3 separate regions of the Homo sapiens genome follow, and all the other regions are linked to region 1. The links come from fine-mapping of genetic effects on gene expression. A gene starts in region 1. Each other region holds a variant in brackets. All regions are shown on one strand. Distances are between the middles of the regions. Region 1 holds the start of CFAP70 (cilia and flagella associated protein 70). Region 2 overlaps MICU1 (mitochondrial calcium uptake 1). Region 3 holds the start of C10orf55 (chromosome 10 putative open reading frame 55).

The links.
Region 2: its variant is fine-mapped to the expression of CFAP70 in monocytes (Quach 2016, PIP 0.95).
Region 3: its variant is fine-mapped to the expression of CFAP70 in whole blood (INTERVAL, PIP 0.99).

The regions. Positions count from the first base shown.
Region 1 is chr10:73,355,318-73,363,503 of GRCh38, forward strand. It overlaps CFAP70 (cilia and flagella associated protein 70), which reads right to left and starts at 3,547. Exons shown (of 28, transcript NM_001367801.1): 1 at 3,461-3,547. RefSeq lists enhancers at 2,690-3,215, 3,152-3,371, 3,216-3,741.
Region 2 is chr10:72,564,933-72,573,099 of GRCh38, forward strand. MICU1 (mitochondrial calcium uptake 1) reads right to left here. Exons shown (of 12, transcript NM_001195518.2): 2 at 1,701-1,862. The coding sequence starts at 1,861. Among named protein-coding and RNA genes, the nearest start is that of MICU1, 57 kb to the right of the region's middle. The variant TA/T (reference allele first, on the strand shown) is at 4,294.
Region 3 is chr10:73,921,967-73,930,152 of GRCh38, forward strand. It overlaps C10orf55 (chromosome 10 putative open reading frame 55), which reads right to left and starts at 811. Exons shown (of 5, transcript NR_160938.1): 1 at 667-811. The variant C/T (reference allele first, on the strand shown) is at 4,431.

The DNA of each region.
Region 1 (8,186 bases):
ACCCTATTGTAACTGATGCATGCAAAGGATCTAGGTTGTGCACTCCTTATAAGAATCGAATGCCTGATTTGTCACTGTCTCCCATCACCCCCAGATAGGACTGTCTAGCTGCAGGAAAACAAGCTCAGGGCTCCCACTGATTCTACATTATGGTGAGTTGTATAATATTTCATTATATAGGCTAGGCACGGTGGCTCACGCCTGTAATCCCAACACTTTGGAAGGCGAGGCGGGCGGATCACCAAGTCAGGAGTTCGAGATCAGCCTGTCCAATACGGTGAAACCCCATCTCTACTAAAAAATTCAAAAATTAGCCAGGTGTGATGGCACATGCCTGTAAGTCCCAGCTACTTGGGAGGCTGAGGCAGGAGAATCGCTTGAACACGGCAGGCAGAGGTTGCAGTGAGCTGAGATCACACCACTGAACTCCAGCCTGGGCAAAAGAGTGACTCCGTCTCAAAACAAAAAAATTTCATTATATATTACCGTGTAATACTAATAGAAATAAAGTGCACAGTAAATGTAATGTGGTTGAATCATCCCCGCTGCCCCCAGTCTGTGGAAAAATTGTCTTCCACGAAACTGGTCCCTGGTGCCAAAAAGGTTGGGGACTGCTGCCATACACTGTTCACAGTGTTCTCTGGTAACCGTTTTTTTTAATCTGCAAAGCTCCCTTCAAACATTATTTAACTTCTCAGTTTTACAAAAATATATTTTGAGAGCAGGAAAGAAGCAGCCACACAAAATGGTAGTCCACTGGAAAAGGTCTTAATGTATTTCTTATTTAGTCAGATATACTGTCAATTTTACAATACTAAGGGCACAAACAATTTCGATAATAAATTGGATATTTGTTTTTTGGAAAAGGTCTTTTATCTCTCCTTCCTTCCTTTTTTTTTTTTTCAGGCTCTCATTCTGTCACCCAGGCTGGAGTGCAGTGGTGTGATCACAGCTCACTGCAGCTTCAACCTCCCAGGCTCAAGTGATTGTCCCACCTCAGCCTCCTGAGTAGCTGGGACTACAGGCATGCGCCACCACGCCCAGCTAATTTTTGTATTTTTTGTAGAGACAGGGTTTCACCATGCTGTCTAGGCTGGTCTCGACGGCTAGGCTCAAGCAATCCACTCACCTCAGCCTCCCAAAGTGCTGGGATTAAAAGGCATGAGCCACTGTGCCTGTTGAAAAGGCCTTATTTTCTAACTCAATTCAAACATTTACTGAGGACATACTATGCTAAGTGTACTTGGTGATACAAAAGAGAAAACAACATCTTACAGCCTTCAGACTTTATAATTATCCTGCCTCTTCTCAGCTACTCCAGCATTTTTCCAGTCACCTAAAAGTGTCAAATCATTTGTTCAACAACATATTTCTGGGCTCTTTAAGGGCTTTAGTGGCACTGACAACTTCTTTGTCAAATGTACATTTGAAATGCCCTTTTGTATCAGTCTTCTTTCCTTTTCAATAATATGGCATTAGGCCTTCATTACCCTTCTGCTAGACTGTAACAAAAGCCTCCTAACTGGTGTCTCTGACTCCAGTTTCTCACTCTAATTCATCCTGCTTTTGTCAGAATTGCTCATTGAAAAAACTTGTTAAGCTTGGCACTGTGATGGGTGCTGAGGATACAAGAGATAAGATGTGAACTCTCTAACCTCAAGAAATTTAAAATCTAGTGAGGACGAGAGACGTGTAACTAGACCAGGAGTCATAATCTGTGAGACAGGTGCTCTGACAGAGGAAAGAAGGGAGGAGTGAAACACACAGGGAGGAAAAGGGGGGTGGAAATTTATTTTTTCTTTTACAAATAAAAAGAATGAGAGAAGCAAGGAAATTAACTGATTATAGCCAGTGTGCCAAGTGTGCTTCGCATTTATTATCTTAAATGTAGCCTCCCTTCTAAGAGATTCTTAAATCTCTATTTGATTGAAAAAAATTGAGCTTCAGAGAAGTTTGTTATCTTACCAGCAGTCATACAGCAAGGAAGTGCTGAATGAAGCTGGGACCTAGCTGGATTTGAGAATACATATGCATGCCAGGAAAATCTTGGAGGAAGTACGCTGGAACTATGTCTTAATAAAGGGAAGGATATTCCAAGAAAGGGAACAGATTTTAAAACGTTCAGAGGCAAAACAACACACATAGCAAGTAGCAAGTAGCTTGCAGTGGTGGAGTAAGAAGAAATAGGGAGAAAATGAGAAGAGACAAGCAGATAAATACCTTATTAAAGTACAGATCTGATCGTATCACTGTCTTGTTCCCTCTCACCTACCAAATAAACTGTAACACTACAGTTTAACTGTAGTTAAATGTAGTACTACATTCAGGGCTTTCTAGGATCTTGCAGTGCCAGTCAACTCCCCTCTTCTAGCTTATGCTCTTGCTTAGTATTTTTCAAAGATTACCTGCATTTAGTCGCTTTTGAACCTTTGCATTTTTCCTTCCCCCTGGAATTATCTCTCCCTTTCTCCTCACTCCGTCTCTACAGCAAATCCTACTCATCCTTTAAAATCCAGCTCAAATGCTTCCTAGTCCATGAAGCTTCCCAGTCGGAAAAACTTGCCTTTCCTCTGAATTCATTTAGCACTTTACACGTCTTTTGTGGCATTACCACAAGCTGTCCTGTTTATGAAGACTGGGTATTCAAAAGACCTTTCCTACTTAACAACTATGTGCCCCTAGGCAAATGCCTAACTTCTCTAAGCCTCAGTTTCACCTTCTGTAAAATGGATAACTTCCAACCTGTTTCACATTTATTGTGAATATCCCCTAAGATATTAAAGCTTTTTAAGTATGAAGCACTGCACAAATGGTATTATTAATATGCAGCGTTTGTCCTGAGAGCTCATTTACACCCTTGAAGGCATGTAACCTGTCTCACGCATATTTACGGGCCCAGAGTGCCTGGCACCATGTCTTGTACACAACAGGCGTTCGCGTCGTGTTTGAATTATGAATGCAAGATATAGGACTAAAGTTATAGTCAGGGCAGCTAGGGTGGGGACTCTTGTTGCCCCCGGCAAGGCACGCATTTCTTGTCATCTGCTCGGAAGAAGCTGCAAGGGGAGAGTCCAGTGAGAAAAAGGTTAGACGAAGGAGGCGATGTGACTGAGTCTGGTCTGGGGACAAGCGCAGTCAGCGCAGAATGAGGAGGCCTCCGACGAGAAGCGGTAAAGGAAGGTCTACGTCCGCGCTCCTGTGGAGGTCGCCGGGCTGGGGTTGGCGGCAGAGTCCGCACCTGGCCGGGCCAGCGGCTTTTCGGTCTAAATATCGGGGTTTTCAGCCTGGCCTTAGCTAAGGGAGCAGAAGATCGGGGTGACGGCTGTGGTGTGGCCGCAGGGCTGAGGTGGGGAGGCCGGGAAGAGAGAGTTTCTTCAGGAGGGATCACTGTCTTACCTGCAGCAGCCTCAGTTATGTTTTTGACAACTATAGCAACCAACTACCTCTCGCGAGAACTTACTTTTGGCCATCGCACGAGCAAGTTTATTCCAAGACTCGCGATAACCCTCTGGGGCCGGGAGCAGGGAGCGAGACGCTGAGCTTCTGCGCCTGCGCCCTAGCGCCGGCTGCAGCCTCCTCACTTCGAGAGCCTGCTGTTTCCGCGGATGCTTTACCTTGCCAAGAGTTGGGTTTAAGTGCATAGGTTTCCACCTTTACATTTTGCTTTCTCGACTCTTTGATTTCAATATTTCTCTATAATAGGAGGGAAAAAAGCAAAAGGAAGTTTAAAGAAAAAGGCCTTTATTAAACTGATTTGAAAACATCATTTAAATATTTCTCCGTGAAATATGCAATATTTTTTAAATGAGCCCGTCACGCCCTGTTGATGAGAGTGCAAAATGACCCTGCTTCTAGGTGCTCAATATTTGTACAATAAACAGACCTGAAGTTTATGATGTTAATACAAATTTTTAATATTCAAAATTTAACATTAAAGAGCTAGAATAGCAAAACACAATAGCAATAACCTGGAAACAACCCAAGTGCCCGTCGAAGGAATAGTGGATGAGTGGACCAATAAACTGTGGCATATTCACAAAATGGCATATTACAAGCAGTCAAAGTTAATGAACTGCAGCCATACACACAACACGGATGAATTTTAGCAGTATATATACTTTAAATTGTTGCAGTGTTAAGAGCCAGCTTGAAGGGACTCCCATGGGCCAAATAAGGGACAATTTGAGCATGAAGTAAACAACGACGATAACGGATTACAACCCATTGAATAAAATAGGAATATGCAAGTCCGTGTTGATACAGAGAAAAAGGAAAACTCTTTCAAAGTAGGATGCCAACCCAGAAGTGTAGCGAGAAGGATGGAAATAGAGAACTACCATTTGACAACTACTGAGGAGGATGACTCAGGCAGGAGTCTTCAATGGACGCTAAGGCTGGTGGGTAGATGTTCTATGAGGCATAGAATACTGGCGTGATTTTGGAATGCTTCCATGGAATACTACTTGATTACAGAGGGGGAAACAGTGAATGGACGCAACCAACATGATCAGGTGATCATGGTTAACATCACCAGTGTTGGGAGGAGTCTACATTGTGAGCCTCCTGGTGAAACACACTAAAAAAAAACACACACACACACACAAAGCATCCTTTTTGGTTTTCCTACCATGAAAGGAACTCAGGTTGTAGACCATCCAAGGACAAGAAAGACTGGGAACTGTCTCTGACTGAGGTTATATGACAACTAAATTCAATATGTATCTCTGTATAGCATTCTGGACCAGAAAGGAAAACAACATTGTTAGGACGGTGGGAAAAATGTGAATTAGCTCTGTGAATCGCATACCACCCCGAACATGCCCAATCTCATCTGAATTGGATGGTAGTGTTGTACCAATATTGATTTCCTGATGTGGAAGTTTGTTTGTTGTTAGGTAGGAGAGTGTCCCTGTTTAGGGGAAAATAAACACTAGTGTGTTTAGGAGTGATGAGACACCATCTCTTCAATTTGCTCTCTTGACTTTCAAAAGGTCCAGAAAAAGACTAACAAGGGATACATACACATGTACACACACATATGCACATGCATGCACACCTGCACACATACACACACAGTGAGCAATGGAACAAGTGCAATAAAGTGTTAACTATTTGGGAATCTGAGTGCAGGGGACATGGGACTTCCTTACACGATTTGGGCAACTTTTCTATACATTCGAGATCATTTCAAAACAATTAAAATATATACACACGCATAACCACTCTCCCTGGGAAGCCCTTTGCTTAGGAAATAGTTACCAGAGTCAAATTTTAAAATTTTTATTTATATGAATAAAGAAACATTATAAATATTGAGAAATATTTTTTGAAAGTTGCAGTGTTACAGGTAATAAAGGTTCTCAAAATAAAACTACTGTGGCACTACTGAGTAAGGATTTCTCTCTGGATTTTTTTTCCCAAGTGAGAGTTTTGGGTGAATTTGCACTGAGACAGCTATCCCACTTGCAAATGACAGACTCTTTCTACATAATAAGCTGGGTTAGGCCAAGTCTTTAATAGGGAGCTGTTCTTCCAGAAATCGCTCATGATCTTGGTCTACTTAGTACTTTGCTTCAAGGTCTTAGGCAAGCAAGGATAAATAACAGATGTCACCTCCTTAAACATAATTAATCTCCATTCAACTTTAGGGTACCTGAGAGCAAGGGCTGTATGTTACAATTTTCTTTTTTTTTTTTTTTAAGATGGAGTCTCACTCTGTAGCCCAGGCTGGAGTGCCGTGGCGCAATCTGGGTTCACTGCAACCTCCACCTCCTGTGGTCAAGTGATTCTTGTGCCTCAGCCACTGGAGTAGATGTGATTACAGGCACCCATCACCACGCCCGGCTAATTTTTGTATTTTTAGTAGAGACAGGGCCATGTTGGCCAGGCTGGTCTTGAACTCCTAACCTCAGGTGATCCACCTGTCTCAGCCGCCTAAAGTGCTGGGATTACAGGCATGAACCACCATGCCCGGCCTTTTTTTTTTTTTTTTTTTCTTTATTGAGACAGTCTTGCTCTGGAGTTCAGTGGCATGATATGATCTCGGCTCACTGCAACCTCTGCCTCCCGGGTTCAAGTGACCCTCCCACCTCAGCCTCCCGTGTGTGTGTGTGTTACAGTTCTTTTATTCTCCTACAGTGCTTAGCAGTGGCCACTCTGTTTGAAAGGCATTCTTTTTGACTGATTTAAAACATCCACTTGTGTATGGAAAAAGCCCTCTTTAGTGGTATGGAAAATATAATAGTACTGGAATCATAATAAAATCATCTACATATGCAAACCAATTTCAGGGAAAAAAACTATAAAAATATCTTTCTAATAAAATTTGAATGCCTTAGTCTGAGTTTCAAAGGCCTCCATTAAATGATGCACTAGCTCAACAAATTCCTTTCTCATTACTCCAAAAGACTTGTTTCTAATTAGCTAATTTGTTACTTCCAAAGTCAACATATTTCTGACAATAATACAATCAAATGTATTGCTCATCCCCAAATTGATCTACAGATTGAAAGCAATCACTATGAAAACCCCAACTGTTTTTTTTTTCTTTCAGAAATTAACAAGCTGATCTTAAAATTCATATGGAAATGCAAGGGACCCAGAGTAGCCAAAACAATCCTGAAACAGAAGAACAGTTGGAAAACTCACACTTCCCAATTTCAAAACTTTCTACAAAGCTGCAGTAATCAAGTAACGAAGACAGTAATAAAGACATAAAGATAGCCATATAGATCAAAATAATCAATTGAATTGAGAGTTCAGAAATAAACTCTTACATTTACGGTCAACTGATTTTTAACAAGAGTGCCAAGATGATCTACTGGGATGTGGGAGGGAGGGGGTAATATAGTCTTTTAAACAAATGGTACAAGGAAAAACAATGTCCACATGCAAAGAATGAAGTTGGACCCTTACCTCACACCATATACAAAAAATAACTCAAAATGGACCAAAGACCTAAATGTAAGAACTAAAACTATAAATTTGAGGGTTTTCTATTTCTGTGAAGAATGTCATTGCAATATTGATAGAGATTGTGTTGAATCTGTGGAGCACTTTGGGAAGTATGAACATTTTAATAATGTTAATTATTCTAATCCATGAACATAGGATACTATTTGTGTCTTCAGTTTCTTTCATCAATGTTTTGTAGTTTTCATTGTAGAGATCTTTTGCCTACTTGGTTAAAACTTCCTAGGGTTTTTGTTTTGTTTTTTGTAGCAATTGTGAATGGGATTGCTGTTTTCTTTTTCAGATAGTTCACTATTGGCATATAGAAATGCTACTGATTTTTGTATGTTGCTTTTGTATCCTGCAACTTTACTGAATTTATTACTTCTAGCAGTTTTTTGGTGGAATCTTTAGGGTTTTGTGTGTATAAATTCATGTCATCTGCAGACAGGAAGTTTGACTTCTTTCTTTCCAATTTAGATGCCCTTTGTTTCTTTCTCTTGCATAATTACTGTGGCTAGGACTTCCAGTACTATGTTGACTAGAAGTAGTGAAAGTGGCTATCCTTGTCTTGTTCCAGATTTTAGAGAAAAAGCTTTCAACGTGTCCTCATTCAGTATGTTAGCTGTGTGTCTGTCATACATGGTCTTTATTTACAAACTATGCATCTGACAAGGGGTTAATGTCCAGAGTATATAAGAAACTCAACACCAAAAAAAAAAAAAAAATCCAAAAAAAAAACCCCACAAATAATCTGATTTTAAAATGGACAAAAGATCTAAATAGACATTTCTTGAAAGTATACAAATGGCCAACAGATATATGAAAAAATGCTCAACATCACTAAATGTGATGGAAATGCAAATAGTGTATCTACACAAACCTAGATAGCGTAGCCTGCCACATACCTAAGTCATATAGAGTATATCCTATTGCTTCTAGGCAACAAACAGGTATGGCATGTTATCATACCGAATACTGTAGGCAATTGTAACACAATGGTAAGTACTTGTGTATCTAAACATAGAAAAAGTACAGTAAAAATATGGCATAAAAGATAAATAGTACACCTGTAGAAGGCACTCACAATGAATGGCACTTGCTGGCCTAGAAGTTGCTCTGGGTGAGTGAAGGAATGAGTAGTGAGTGAATTGTGAAGGCCTAGGACATTACTGTATACTACTGCAGACTTAACAAACACTATATAATTAGGCTACACTAAATTTATTTTAAAA
Region 2 (8,167 bases), 790 kb before region 1:
ACCCAAGGCATTTAGTAACATCCCAGAAAGATCATGCTATATTAATAGGGCTAAGATAGCTCTAGAGGCTGGGCATGGTGGCTCATGCCTGTAATCCCAACACTTTAGGAGGCTGAGGTGGGCAAGTCACTTGACCCCAGGAGTTCAAGACCAGCTTGACCAACATGGTGAAACCCTATCTCTACTAAAAATACAAAAAAAAAAAAAAAATTACCCAAAGGATCATACATCATGCTGCTATAAAGACACACGCACACGTATGTTTATTGCGGCACTATTCACAATAGCAAAGACTTGGAACCAACCCAAATGTCCAACAATGATAGACTGGATTAAGAAAATGTGGCACATATACACCATGGAATACTATGCAGCCATAAAACATGATGAGTTCGTGTCTTTTGTAGGGACATGGATGAAGCTGGAAACCATCATTCTCAGCAAACTATCGCAAGGACAAAAAACCAAACACTGCATGTTCTCACTCACAGGTGGGAATTAAACAATGAGAACACATGGACACAGGAAGGGGAACATCACACGCCGGGGCCTGTTGTGGGGTGGGGGGAGGGGGGAGGGATAGCATTAGGAGATATACCTAATGTTAAATGATGAGTTACTAGGTGCAGCACACCAACATGGCACATGTATACATATGTAACTAACCTGCACGTTGTGCACATGTACCCTAAAACTTAAAGTATAATAAAAAAAAAAAAATTAGCCATGGTGGTGCACACCTGTAATCCCAGCCGGGCATGGTGGTGCACACCTATAATCCCAGCTACTTGAGAATTGCTTGAACCCAGAGGCAGAGGTTGCAGTAAGCTGAGATCATGCCACTACACTCCAGCCTGGGCGACAGAGCAAGACTCCATCTCAAAAAAACAAACAAACAAAAATAAAAAACAGAGAGTGACAGAGTCAGAAAAACAGTAACTATGTATTTTAAGAAAGAGAAGACTGTGGCTCACTACATTTTCTCTTCTTTCCAAGGAAGTTTCCATAACTAGTGAAAAAAATTATCAGGGACACTAAAGTACCAAGGTTCCTTTGTTAATTTCACAGGGTCACCAAATTGTGAAGTCTCAGAAAGCATTCATTTTCTTTTTTTTTTTTTTTTTTTTTTTGGAGACAGTTTTTCTCTGTCACCCAGGCTGGAGTACAATGGCACAATCTTGGCTCACTGCAACCTCCACCTGCCTCCCAGGTTCAAACAATTCTCCTGCCTCAGCCTCCCAAGTAGCAGGGACTACAGGCTCACGCCCTGTGTCTGGCTATTTTTTGTATTTTTGTAGAGATGGGTTTTTGCCATGTTGGCCAAGCTGGTCTCAAACTCCTGACTTCAAGTGATCCAACCACCTTGGGCTCCCAAAGTGCTGGGATTACAGGTGTAAGCCACCGCGCCTGGCCAGAAAGCCTTCATTTTCTAAAGCTGCTATTGCTATCCCTATCCCATTATTTAAAATGTTCAGCAGAGGAGACAGGCAGACCTTGAAGCACAGTGTTTCCTAAGTATTGCCTTAGCATGTTGAATTCTTTGAAACATCTTATTTCATAGACGAATATTAACAATACCAAATGATCCGAGCAAGAAATTCTGATACAGAGTTAAGCCAGAAATCAACTCCTTTCTGACAACAGAGATGACTGGAAGAATAAAAGTATACGCAAGAACAAGATGGTTGGATAACACTCACCTCTTCCACAAAAGACCAGTACTTGCAGTTACTGCAGATGCTCCCAGGAAAGCCACCATCATTAGTCTTCGCCGGATCTGGATGGGCTGTGATCCTCCATGGTACCATCGAGAACCCACAGCCAGTTCTGCCAAAGCAGAAAGTGAGTTCAGACGAAACATCCTGTGGACAATAAGTAGAAATGTCACTCTTAGCTAGTGGTAGTTATGATGATGATGATGATGATCCTACCAACATTTCTAATAAACACTAAAGTAATTGCTCTATGACAGGCACTATTCTAAACAATTTGCTTATATTATCCCATTTAATCCTCAGAATAATCTTATGAGCAAAGTACTACTTATAAAACTGATATATTAGTCAAAGTACAATTAGAAGACAGAAACCACATGATAATTTGAGTATGAAACTTTTAATATAAAACATTATTAAGGCCAGGTATGTGGCTCATGCCTGTAATCTTAGCACTTTGGGAGGCCAAAGAGAGAGGATCATTTGAGCCCAGGAGTTGAAGAACGGCCTGGACAACATAGTAGGACCCCATCTCTACCAAAAAAAATCAGCCAAGCATGGTGACATGCACTTGTAGTCCCAGCTATTCAGGGGGCTGAGGTGAGAGCACTACTTAAGCCCAGGATGTTGAGGTGACAGTGAGCTATGATCAACAGAGCAAGATGCTGTCTCAAAAAAATGAATAAAATAAATAAAAAATAAAAAATTATTAGTTACAACAGGAAATTTACTACTCAGAAGTTAAAGAAATAGCAGATATAGGGAGCAGTTACTATTCTAGATCTGACACAGAGCACCAAGAAAAGACCAGTCTATAAAAGGTCTACTCTCACTCACAGGGCAGAGATCAGACTGTGTGGAGAGGGCACAGCTATGTATGTCAGAGAAACTTACTAAGGTGCCATGCCAGCAAAATGCACTAGAAAGCCACTCTCTGTGATGCCAGAACAAGTCATCTACTGGACAACTCATGCCAGCGGAATTTGTTGGGAAGCTGACCTTCGCGATGCCAGGGGAAGCCACCCATGGGGAGGCAGTTTCACTAGGAAATTGCATATGAGAGTTGCTGCTAAAACTCCTTAGGAGCTGGGTGCCATTGAGTGTCCCACTAGTTCCTGCATGCTATAGAAGCAAGCCACAAAGGGCACACTAGACTCAGCAAGAAACACCCCTCCTCCAGGGTCCTTCTAGTCTCTCTACTGACAAAGTTTAACAGTAACTGGCAAGGGAAAAACTTCCAGTATCACAAACGGGACAATGAAAGATGTGTTTAGAGCTGAAATGAAAAAAGATAACTGGTACCCATATTTTACAGATCTAAAATATAACTTGCTCAAGAGTACAAAGGTAGGAAGTGATAGATCTAGAATTTGAACCTAGGGAGGACTAATTCCATACTTCAATGTCTCGGAGTTAGGTAGGGAGACTTCAACCTAGGAGGGGAGACTTTGCTGCCCCCTACCTTATAATGCTGACACTGCTTTGAAGTTTTTATTAAATATTTTTCACACCCAGGTCCTTGGAAGCCCTCCTCCCTACCAGATTCTCTATAGTTCAAACTTCACTTAAAAAAAAATTCTTTTAATGTTTTGTTTTAAATCTGAAACATCTGTATTAGTGCATATTACTGTTCAATAAATACTTACTCTTCCATCCCCCATCCCTTAGGCAAAATTACTTTTCTACTTTTTTCTTCCCCTTCTGCATATGAATGCCAGGTCATAAATTTCCTTCTCTTTAAGTTTTTGGCGTATGTCTTGCCATATGTCTTGCTCTAACCAATGGAATGTGGACCAGTTCCATGAAGTGCTTTTAGGAGGTGCTGCTGTTAGTTTTCTTGTGTTCCTGCACTCCATCGAGGGAAGACCATGTCCCAAAGAGACACTGATCCTTCAAACTGGCATCCATAATGAACAGACTTCAGCCTGGAATAAACCACTGTCAAGCCCAGCTGAGCCAGCTGAGCACAGCTGACCTGTAGAATGCTGGTGAGAAATAAATGTGTGTAACTGTAAGCTGCAAAGATTTGGGTGTTGTTTGTTGCCCCATCAATAGCCAACTAATTCAGCATCCAAGATAATTACTGGGAAGTTCTTATTCTTTTTTTTTTTTTTTTTTTTTTTGAGACTGAGTCTTGCCCTATCACCCAGGCTGGAGTACAGTGGCGCAATCTCGGCTCACTGCAACCTCCACCTCCCGGGTTCAAGCGATTCTCCTGTCTCAGCCTCCTGGGTAGCTGGGATTACAGGCACACGACAACCACACCTGGCTAATTTTTGTTTTTTTAGTAGAGACAGGGTTTCACCATGTTGGCAAGGCTGGTCTCGAACTCTTGACCTCAAGTGATCCATCCGCCTCGGCCTCCCAAAGTGCCGGGATTACAGGCATGAGCCACCGCGCCTGGCTGGGAAGTTCTTATTCAACAAAAATTTATTAAATTCATACTGTATATACATCCCTATGTGAGACCCAGAAAGCCAAAAACTATCTACATTCTAATTAAACAAGATAAATACAAAACACTTTTAAAACAATACATTTCTAAAATCATATATATGCATATATATATATATATATA[TA/T]TATATATATATTTTTTTTTTTTTTTGAGATGGCGTCTCACTCTGTTGCCCAAGCTGGAGTGTGGTGGCATGATCTCAGTTCACTGCAACCTCTGCCTCTCGGATTCAAGCAATTCTCCTGTCTCAGCCTCTTGAGTAGCTGGGACTACAGGCACATACCATGATGCCTGGCTAATTTTTGCATTTTTAATAGAGATGGGGTTTCATCATGTTGGTCAGGCTGGTCCCAAACTCCTGACCTCAGGTGATCTACCTGCCTCGGCTTCCCAAAGTGCTGAGATTACAGGCGTGAGCCACCACACCCGGCCTAAAATTATATCTTGAAGTATAGAAATATTATGATAGAAATGACAGAAAACTACAAATAAAAAAGATAAAGTTGAGACTGGGTTAGTCAGCAAAAGCTTTTGTTTAGTCTTAAGCCTCAGAATGGTGTAAAATTTTGATTAAGTCAGAGAAATGTTGAGACACCCCCAAAACCATAGGATCATTTCGGGCACCTCCATCCAGAGAATTAATGTAAATGATTTTTTTCCCTCTAGATTATGACCTTCAGGGCTCAGTATAGTACCTCACTGTTTTAATGCACCAGATGGGCTGATGGAAGAAGAGGCATTTCTTTACAGTCCCACTTTTTTGTAGAGGTAATTCATTCAAATTATACAAAGAATCCATGCCCCCTTTGATTTTTCTCAAAGCACAGTTCACTGATTCCTAAATTTTTGTGTGTGTGTTTTGAGATGGAGTCTTGCTCTGTCGCCAAGGCTGGAGTACAGTGGCATGATCTTGGCTCACTGCAACCTCTACCTCCTGGGTTCAACCAATTCTCCTGCGTCAGCCTCCCAAGTTGCTGGGATTACAGAAGTGTGCTACCATGCCCAGCTAATTTTATATTTTTAGTAAAGACGGGGTCTTACCATATTGGCCAGGCTGGTCTCGAACTCCTGACCTCAAGTGATCTGCCCGCCTTGGCCTCCCAAAGTGCTGGGATTACAGGTGTGAGCCACCATGCCCAGCCCACTGATTCCTAATTTAAACTACTTTGCACTTTGTACATATCTTCCTATGGCATACGTAATTTTTTCTCCCCTTGCCTCAAGGCCCAAATTATTTTTTTTTTCAAGTTGTAAACACATAGTCTAGCACAGGACTTGTTACATTATTAGTGCTTAAAATACTTAACCATTTTACTTTCACATGTCTGTGTACAAACTATACAGGTACTTGCTCCTAACATTTAAGTATACTCTAAGTTCCTAATTTACTTAGAAAACTGTCTTCTATTATTTGGATTCAAGTCAGGTTAGACTACTTAGGCATCTCCTAAAATCAATGAGCTGGTTACTATTAACTCTTCCCTGGGACCTATACCTATAATCTCTTATGTAAACTTTGCTCCTAGCTCCCTTCATCCAATCTAGGTCCAATTTTGAAATTGGACCTAAATCTTGCCCTCATATAGACAAAATGGAAAAACTGTTAATCTTTTCTCCTATTTTCCATGACCTAAGCTTTAATAACACAATTCTTATATCCTTCCCCAATCCCAGAAATCATCTCATTTTATTGCACATACTCTAGCAAAATCCAGCACCCAGGAGGCTGTCCATTATATTTTCTTCCTGTCTGGCAACTTCTGATTTTTTTTTTTTTGGTTCATTTCAAAATTAACATTTCTCAAATCCACATGTACACTCACATAAATAGCACTGCTCTTCGCTACAGCAAAAATGAGCACTAAACTAAAACATGCATATCTGGAGGAAACATTATTCATCACTGACAACAGAAAGAACAGACACTTGGAAGTTTTCAATGTTTAAAATAAATAACAGCCAATTCAAAAGTTGGAACAGGATGAGTGCAGTGGCTCACACCTGTAATCCCAGCACTTTGGGAGGCCACGGCGGGCAAATCACTTGAGGTCAGGAGTTCGAGACCAGCCTGGCCAACATGGTGAAACCCTGTCTCTACTAAAAATACAAAAATTAGCTGGGCCTGGTGGCAGGCGCCTGTTATTCCAGCTATTCAGGAGGCTGAGGGAAAAGAATCACTTGAACCGAGGAGGCGGAGGTTGTAGTGAGCCGAGATTGTACCACTGCACTCCAGCTTGGTTGACAGAGTAAGACCCTACCTCAAAAAGCCAAAAGTTCTAACAGGCAAGGGGTATATAAGCCTGGAAGATAAATTTACAACATCTGATCAGATGTAGAGAACAGCTAGACATATGATCAACTAAGTAAGCCACAATCACTTGAGAAGGACCTTTGAATGCCAGACCAAGAATTTAGAGCATATGTAAAATAGGAAGCCACTCAAGTTCTTTAATAGGAAGAGATCATGGTAAAAACGGGTTAAAGCATTATCAGTCTATCTATTAGCAGTGCATGGAATAAACTGCAAAGAAGCAAAGGCAGAGAGAGCTGACAGGAAAGTGATGAGTACAGCCAGAAGGCATTAATAACCTAGGTATTGGGTGATGAGTGCCTAGATTATAAGTGTAGAAATAAAAAACAGAATCAAACAAAAAATTTCCAAAGAAAAACAAAATGTAGTTGGGCATGGTGGCACACGTCAGCTACTTAAAGAGGCTGAGGTGGGAGGATAGCTTGAGCCCAGGAGTTTAAGTCCAACATGGGCAACATGGTAAAACCCCACCTCTAAAAAAAAAATAATGATAAAGACATTGGTATCAAACACATATTAATATCTAATTGCACAGGAGATATGGAAGATAAAAAGGAGAAATAAATTAAAACAATAACAACAACACTAGGTACTATGGTAAAAAAAAAAAAACAAACACTAAGTAGTATGGCAGAAATCCAATGATCCAAGATCTGGTCTCAACTGTACTACTCAACAGCTAGCTGTATATACTAAAGAAGCTCATCCCTCCTCCTTGGGAAAAAAGCTCACTCACTGGTAAAATGAAAGAATTGCGTAGGTGAGCTTAGGGTTCCTTTTATCTCTTTAGCACTCTCATATCTTTGGTAGAAAACACTATAACAAAATTTAATTAATTTCATTTAGGAGAAAAGACTAAGATCATATAAAGTATTCAAGATTTATTAGTTTGGGCAATCCATTTCTATATGCTATGGCTCTAGGGGATTTCAAACTTTGAAAGTTCTGAGTTTTACCAACTCAGACCCAGATAAGTTATGTGATTTCCTCATAGCTAATTAGTACAAAAACCTATAACAGATCCTTGCATTTTTGACTCCCAAATAAACTTAATGAGAAAAACCTGTTTAATAACTGTTCTCAGCAGAAAAAATATAACAGCCACACTCTAAAAGTAGATCAAATGCCCAACTACAGAAAAATAAATGATGCTATAATAACATAATGGAATGGAATGTAAATATTAAAAATGATAATAATAAAATATTATTAAAATATTACTTCACAAACCAACAGAAAGTTGGGTAAAGATATAAAAAGACAGTTGGAAAAGAAAAATGGCTCCGAAAACTGTGAAAAGATACTTAATCTCACTCATAATAAAATAATGCAAATTAAACCTATACTCAGATACTTTTCACCCATCAAACGGGCAAAAATCAAAAAGTTTGAAAACACATTTGTTGACAATGTTGCAGAATGGCACTACTGATGAACATGCAAATCTGTACAATTTATGGTGGGCAATTTGGTAATTTGCATTAAAATTACTCATATAATCTGCATATACTGGCCTAGAAATTCCACTTCTAATAATATACCCTACTGATGTACTTGCACACTTGTGAAATTATGCACATGTATATGGTGCATAATTATTATATCATAGTTTATAATAGCAAAACACTAAGAACTACCCCAATGTTCACCAAGAGAGATTGGTTAAAGTATGATAAATCTATATAA
Region 3 (8,186 bases), 570 kb after region 1:
CCACCTCGGCCTCCCAAAGTGCTGGGATTACAGGCGTGAGCCACTGCGCCCAGCCTCATCTATCAGAATTTTAATCCTCTCCTAGATAACAATTCTTTCCTCCTAGAAGATTCCCAGGCCAGATGAGGAGACCACACTCAGCCATTGGTTTCAAAGTAAAACTTCACTGTTCTCACAGTAACCTCAGCCTTTCTGCTGCAATCTGGTTTCATTGAAGTGGTTTCCGTTTTCACCAGAACCCCTCTTTCTGAAGTATTCTCAGCCCATTATATTAACAGCACTCAGCCTGCTTTCCACGTATGCCCTATCTTTCCCAAGCTGACCACAGCAGCACCCCTGCCTATACCCCTCCATACTCACTCCCATTGGGTCCACCTTCCTTCCAAGAAGGAAACATTTAAGCCCTCCCTTTGAATTAGATGAAGTAAGAGGAGTTGCTGAGGTGTTTTTTAAAAATCAATTCTGGGCTAGGTGCAATGGCTCACACCTGTAATCCTAATACTGTGGGAGGCCTAGACGGGAGGATTGCTTGAGCCCAGGAGCTCGAGGCTGCAGTGAGCTATGATTGCACTACTGCACTCCAGCCTGGGTGACAGAGCAAGACCCTGTCTCTAAAGAAAAAAAATCAGTTTTATTGAGATATAATTCATATATCATACAACTTACCCATTTATTCTTTCTCTTTTCTAGAGACAGGGTCTTGCTCTGTCACCCAGGCTGATCTCAAACTCCTAGGCCAGAGTGATCCTCCCACCTCAGCCTCCTGAGTGGCTGGAATTACAGGCTCATACCACCACGTCTGGCACCATTTGAAGTGTACAATGCAATGGTTTTTAGTAGATTCACAGAATTGTGAGACATCACAATCAATTTTAGAACACTTCATCACCTCACAAAGAAATCCTGTACCCACTCACAATCACTCCGTTTTTCTCCCCAACCCCCTCAGCCCTAGGCAATCACTAATTTACTACTTTCTGTCCTCTCTGTGGGTTTGCCAATTCTGGGCATTTCATATCAATAGAATCCTATAATATGTGGTTCTTTGTGACTGGCCTCTTTCACTCTTAACATGATGTTTTCAAGTTTTATCCATGGCATAGCATGTGTCAGTGAGGTTGCTGAGTTTTAATAACAAATTGAGGGAAAAGATGGTCTAGGCGAGGTGCAGTGGCTCACATCTGTAAATTCCAGCACTTTGGGATACCAAAGTGGGAGGATCCCTTGAGTTCAGGAGTTCCAGAACAGCCTGGGCAACATAAAGAGGCCCCATCTCAAAAAAAAAAAAAAAAAAAAAAGGATGTTCTAGGTCTCTTTTTGAGGTTTCAGTCACATTGAGATTCATTCAACAATCTTTGTCATTTCTTTCTTTCTTTCTTTTTTTTTTTGAGATGGAATCTCGCTCTGTCGCCCAGGCTGGAGTGCAGTGGCGCAATCTCGGCTTACTGCAATCTCTGCCTCCCAGGTTCAAGCAATTCTCTGCCTCAGCCTCCCGAGTAGCTGGGATTACAGGTGCCTGCCACCATGCCCCACTAATTTTTTTCTATTTTTAGTAGAGACGAGGTTTCACCGTCTTGGCCAGGCCGATCTTAAATTCCTGACCTCATGATCCACCTGCTTCGGCCTCCCAAAGTGCTGGGATTACAGGCATGAGCCACTGCGCCCGGCCCTTTGTCATTTTTTTAAAGTACCCATACACAGGACATTATTTTAGATACAAATGAGGCAGTCCTAGTCCTCAAGGAGCTCACCACTTTGCAAAGTGCTATACTAAGTCTGCATAAAATGCATGGAAAAATAATGAAGAAGCAATTGATTCTGCCTGGTGAAGTCAATGACGACTTTACAGAAGAGGTGATATTTTACCTGGACATTCAAATACACACAGAAATTTGCCAAACTAGAAGAAAGGCATTGTAGGCGTAGGGAAGTTCATGGAGGCATGAAAAGGTGAGGTGTTCTAAGGAAATGAGGAATAGTCCATTGTGGTGGAGAACTCTGGGGGGCAATGAGTAGGTGGAGATGGTGGGGAAGGATCTGGTGGGATCCAGCTGGTGATGACCCTGCTGCAGGACTGATTCTCAGCAGCAGGCACTGGTTCTGCTCAGTGACTAAACAGATGCTGTCCTGAGATCCTCTCCGCGTGGCCCCTGCCATCAGCCTCTCTCCACTTCTTCATGATCCAGCAACCACAGGGTTAATGCCTGTGGCACAGCAAAGGCCTCTGAGATCCTCCCTCCTCCAGCTGGCTCAGGCGAAAGTGTCCTACTGGGGTATCTTGATAGTTAAATATTTTGACTATCACCTCTTGCCCTCAGGCACTATTTTTCAAAATCCAGAAAGTGAATTAAGTTCTAGAAGCCATAAAAAAATTGGCTTTTTAAACTAAACATTTTTATTCAATTGTAAAAGTAGCTACAAATGTAAAATACTTTCATAGCATTCCACAGCCATTGTTAACATCTCTGGCTTCTTGGGTTCCTTTGTAATCTCAACCTCTTTTACTCGGTCTTAAATGTTAGGATTCCTAAAGCCTGATCTTAAACTTCCTATTCCCACCCTAAGCTTTCTCCCTTAGGATCTTGTTAGCACCCAGGCTTAAATGACCACCAATAAACAGATGGCTTACAAAGCTGATCTCTAGCCAGACCTCTCTTCTGCACTCCAGACTCTTATTTTCTGTTGTCTACTTGACACCCCTTTTGGTTGTCACTCACAGGGGACCTCAAAGTCAACCTGCCCCAAACTGGCCGAGTCTTCATGCCCCAGTGTGGAGACATCTCCCATCACTTTCTGTCTCAGATGATAGCACCACATCCATTCAATTATGAAAGCCAGAAACCTGGGGCCATCCTGATGCTTCTCTCCTGGTTTCCTTCATCCCCTCCATCACCAAATCCTGGGGATTTGACTGATATCTCTTGAAGTCGTCCATTTCTCTCCCTCCCCACCATCACCATTAGTTGAGCCCAGTCTACCCTACAATAGCTTCCCAGTTTGGTGCCACTGCACTACAGCCTGGGCGACAAGAGCAAAACTCAGTCTCAGAAAAAAAAAAAAAAAAAGGACCAAAGGACCACTAAAAGAAGAGCACTCTTTTTTTCTTTTTTGAAGCAGGGTCTTGCTCTGTTGCCCAGGCTGGAGTGCAGTGGCACAATCCTAGTTCACTGCAGCCTTGACCTCCTGGGTTTAAATGATCCTCCTGCCTCAGCCTTCCAAGTAACTGGAACCACAGGTATGTGCCACCACACCTGGCTAATTTTTTTTTTTAATTCTTTTGTAGAGACAGGGTCTTACCATGTTGCCCAGGCTGGCTGGTCTCAAACTCCTGGGCTCAAGTGATCCTCCTGCCTTGGCCTTCCAGTGTGCTGAGATTATAGGCATAAGCCACCATGGCTGGCCTAAGAAGGGCATTCTTAGCACAGGTTGGTGAGGATTAGGGGCTAGAAGAGAACCCAAAAGTTTCATTTATTCACTGATTCATCCTTCACTCATTAATATAGCAAACACTTATTGGGAGTCGGCCATGGGCCTGGCATTGTGCTGTGTATTGGGTATAAAGATGAGAGCCCCAGTCTCAACCCCAGTGAGATAAGGGTCAAGTTGGGGAAGAGACACATTGCAAATGAATAGAGTACAGGGTGAGGAAGATTTACAAGATGGGCAGGGATGGCTAAGACAGCAAGGTGGAGGAGGTGACCTTGGGGAGAATCTTGAAGGGCAAATACAGGAGGAAGAAATGCTTCTCTGAGCAGAGGAAACAGCACATGCAAACGTGAAGAGGAGGGAGGAAGCCCAGGGCACCGGAGGGACTGCAGGTGGTTCCAGCCGCTGGGGTAGGGGCTGGCATTGAAGTGATTTGACTGGAGGGATTGGCAAGAGCTGGAACCTACGGGCCTAGAGGACTCTGCCTGACACATGAAGGACTTTGAACTTTCTTGTGATGTGGAATTGTTAAAGATTTTGGAGCAGTGTGAAAAATTGATCAAAGGAAGATTCTTGGGCCTGGGTGAGACTACCAGCAGGGAAAACCAGTTTGGAGACTATTGCAATCAGCGAGGTAGGAGCTGAAAAGTGTCTGAGCCAGGGCTATGGCAATGGGATGTGAGCAGAGGATACAAATATGGGAGATTGGTGGGGATAGAATAGACTTGGTGCCTGGCTGGGGGCGGGAAGAAAAGGAGATATCACTTGGTTTAGTCTCCTGCCTTCGGGTAGATAAGGCAACAGCATAATTTTACAGGTGAGAAACTGAGGCTGTAAGTGATTTATAGTAGGTAGCTGACCAAGCTAGAGTTACCACTTGTAGAACCTTGGGGATCAATACCTCAGGGCAGCTAGTTCTGCTAATTACCTCCTTAACTCTGTCCACCCAACTGGAGAACTTCCCTATCACCATAATCACCACGCAGTGCTGATATCCAAGCCTG[C/T]ATAGGGTGATGCTTGTTTCTGAAATACCCCAGGCCTGTTCAGCCCTGTGACTGTGGTTCTAACACCTGGAATTTCTCCTGAACCTGCTGGTCATGTGATGCACTGGCAATGAGTTAGTGGATAGGTCGGTGGCATGTATAAGGAAATCAGCAGATGCTGGATCTAGCCGTCTGCCTTCTGACTTCCTAAAAATGTGACTTCTGGTGTTTCAACAGATCACATGCCCTTAGCACATCACCAAGTTCTGGCACGAGGTTGTGGAGATGGAGCAGATTTTGTAAGGACTCCAGCTGGTGGGCTTCCTAGCCCAGTCTCTCCTTCCCTCTTTTTGGTGGTTCTCCAGTTGCCCTTAATTTCTCATTCTCTTTTCATATAAAGGGAAGAAAATGACTTTCTCCCTCACCTGGCTCTTCCCATCCTCACCCTACTGTCTTTTTAGCTCTCTCTCCAGAGTATTGTACAAGCTGGGGTTAATGCCATTGGAGGGAGGACTCTCTAGCTCCAGCTTGGTTTTTCCATTTAATTGTCTTGGTGAAGCCAGCCATGGTGGTGCATGCCTGTAATCCCACCTACTTGGGAGGCTCAGGGGTGAGGATTGCTAGAGGCCAGGAGTTCAAGACCAGCCTGGGCAACATAGTGAGACCTTATTTCTAAATGAATGAATGAATGAACGAATGTAACAAGTGTCAGCCCCTTTTCCTTTTCTTTTCTTTTTTGAGATGGAGTCTTGCTGTGTCACCCAGGCTAGAGTGCAGTGGCATGATCTCGGCTCACCGCAACCTCCGCCTCCCGGGTTCAAGCGATTCTTCTGCCTCAGCCTCCCGAGTAGCTGGGACTACAGGCGCACGCCACCACGCCCAGACAATTTTTGTATTTTTAGTAGAGACGGGGTTTCACCATATTGGCCAGGCTGGTCTCAAACTCCTGATCTCGTGTTCTGCCCGCCTCGGCCTCCCAAAGTGCTGGGATTACAGGCATAAGCCACCGTGCCCGGCCCCCCAGCCTCAAACTTTCTCTGATTTCTCACTATACCTACACACTCCTCACCACCACAGGCTGAGAGATTCTGCCAGGGAAGCTCTAAGCTCTTGAGTCCCATTGGAACTGGACGTATCTGTGAAGTTAACAGCTATTGATCAGGTTACTTCTATTTCCCACTGGAATTTGGCCACCATCTTTGGCTGTAGAGAGTTACTAGAATTTTGCCAGTTTCCCTAGTGGTGAGCTCACCAGAAGTCCTTCTCTGAAAGTCCCTTCAAGTCAAGACCTCTTTGAGTGCTTCCCTCTGCCCTTTCTGTCTCCTCAACTGAATTCTGTGCTGGCTGAGGGAATGAGGAGAAATGATGAACTGGAGACAGAGTGGGATAAACACTTTGCTTAGAACATCAATCTTTGTTTTTTTGAGACAGAGTCTTGCTCTGTCACCCAGGCTGGAGTGCAGTGGCACGATCTTGGTTCGCTGCAACCTCTGCCTCCTAGTTCAAGCGATTCTTCTGCCTTAGCCGCCCAAGTAGCTGGGATTACAGGTGTGCACCACCATGCCCAGCTAAATTTTTGTATTTTTAGTACAGACGGGGGTTTTGCCATGTTGGCCAGGCTGGTCTCGAACTCCTGACCTCAAGTGATCTGCCCACCTTGGCCTCCCAAAGTGCTGGGATTATAGGTGTGAGCCACCGCACCTGGCCTAGAACATCAATCTAAAGCAATTAGGGTCCCCAAATTAGCAATTCTGTATTACCTGGCACTTGTTAGGAGTTGCAAATTCTCAGGCCCCACCCCAGATAGACTGAATCAGAAATTCTAGAGGTGGGGCCTAGCAATCTGTGTTTTAACAAGCTCCCCAGGGGATTACATTGCCTGCTCAGGTTTGAGGACCACTCTTCTAGGTGTTGATTCTCAAACTTCAGGATGCATCCTAACACCTGGGGCAGCTGGTTATGTAGGATCTGGTTAAACAAACTGGACTGGTGTCTGGGCAACTGTATTTTTAGTAAGCTCCCTAGATGATTCTTATATTCATCAAAGATTGAGGATCATTGATCTAAGGAACTCATCTAATTAGCTGAGTCTCCTGGGAAGGGAGCAGACAGAAGGGCAATGGAAGTGTCTCTTAATATTCCAAATGCTACCTGCATCTGAACCTCTGGAGAGCTTGTTAGAAAAGCAGGATCTTGAGCCCCCATCAGAGGTATTGACCCAGACTTTCTGGGCGTGGGGCCCTGGCATCTACATTCAGAGTTCTCCAGGTGATTCTTGCGCATACTAAAGTGTGATTACTGAGGAGCAACAAGTTGGCAGGTGTTCTCAATGCTGGATGCACATTAGAATCACCTGAGGAGCTTTATAAAATTATGTGATAACCTGAGCTCCACCTCCACAGAGTCTGACTTCATTGGTCTGGGCTGGGACCTTGATGTTTTTTAAATGTCTCACACCGGATTATTTTAATAGATAGAGTTAAAGACTATCAGGTTTGGTTGGATATGGGGGTCATGCCTTAATCCCATGGCTTTGAGAAGCTGAGGTGGGAGGATCACTTGAGCCCAGGAGGTCGAGACCAGCCTGGGCAACAGAATGAGACCCCCATTTCTACAAAATTAAATTGTTTTAAAAATTAGCTGAGCACGGTGATGCACGCCAGTAGTCCCAGCTACTTGGGAGGCTAAGGTAGGAGGACTATTGAGGCCAGGAGGTCAAGGTTGCAGTGAGCTGTGACCACTCCAGCCTGAGCTCTTAAAAAACAAAATGAAACAAAAAAACCTATCAGGTTAGGCTGGGCGTGGTGGTGCACACCTGTAGTCCCAGCTACTCGGGAGGTAGAGGCACGAGAGTCACTTGAATGTGGGAAGTGGAGGTTGTAGTGTGCTGAAATTGCGCCACTGCACTCCAGCCTGGGCAACAGAGCAAGACTCTGTCTCAAAACAAAATAAAAAAAAACAAAAAAACCTATCAGGTTAAAGGGAGATGCAGATCTGGGAAGGGTCAGGAAACAGGAGAAGGTGAAGGAATGCCAAGGAAACAATTTGGTGGAAGCCTGAGGGCAAGGCTAGTTATGGTTTCCATGTGGGAAATCCAGGGGAGATTGATTGGGAAGGTGGAAGGGGCCTCAGGTTGGAAAGTGGGCAGGGTGGCTTGGGTGGCGTGAAGCTCACTGTAGAAAGAGGTTAATGTATTAATTTCCTGCTGCTACTGTAACAAACTTAACGGCTTAAAATAACATATGTATTATTTTACAATTCTCTGGGTCAGAAATGTAAAATGGGTCAGCAGGGCTGGGTTCCTTCCGAAGGCTCCAGGGAAGAATCCATTTCCCTGCTTTTCTAGTCTAGAGGCTGCCTGCATTTCTTGGCTCATGACCCCACATCACGGTGACCTCTGCTTCCGTCATGACATCCTCTTCACCCACTCTGGTCCTCTGTTTCCCTCTCAGAAGGACCCTGAGGATTGCATTGGGTCCATCAGGATAATCTTCCCATCTCAAGATCCTTAAATTAGGCCAGGTCTGGTGACTTAAGCCTGTAATCCCAGCACTTTGGGAGGCCAAGGTGGGCGTGAGGTCAGGAGTTTGAAACCAGCCTGGACAACAAGGTGAAACCTCGTCTCTACTAAAAATACAAAAAAAATTAGCCGGGTGTGGTGGCGCATACCTGTAGTCCCAACTACTTGGGAGGCTGAGGCAGAAGAATCACTTGAAACTGGGAAGTGGAGATTGCAGTCAGCCGAGATCATGCCACTGCACTCCAGCCTGGGTGACA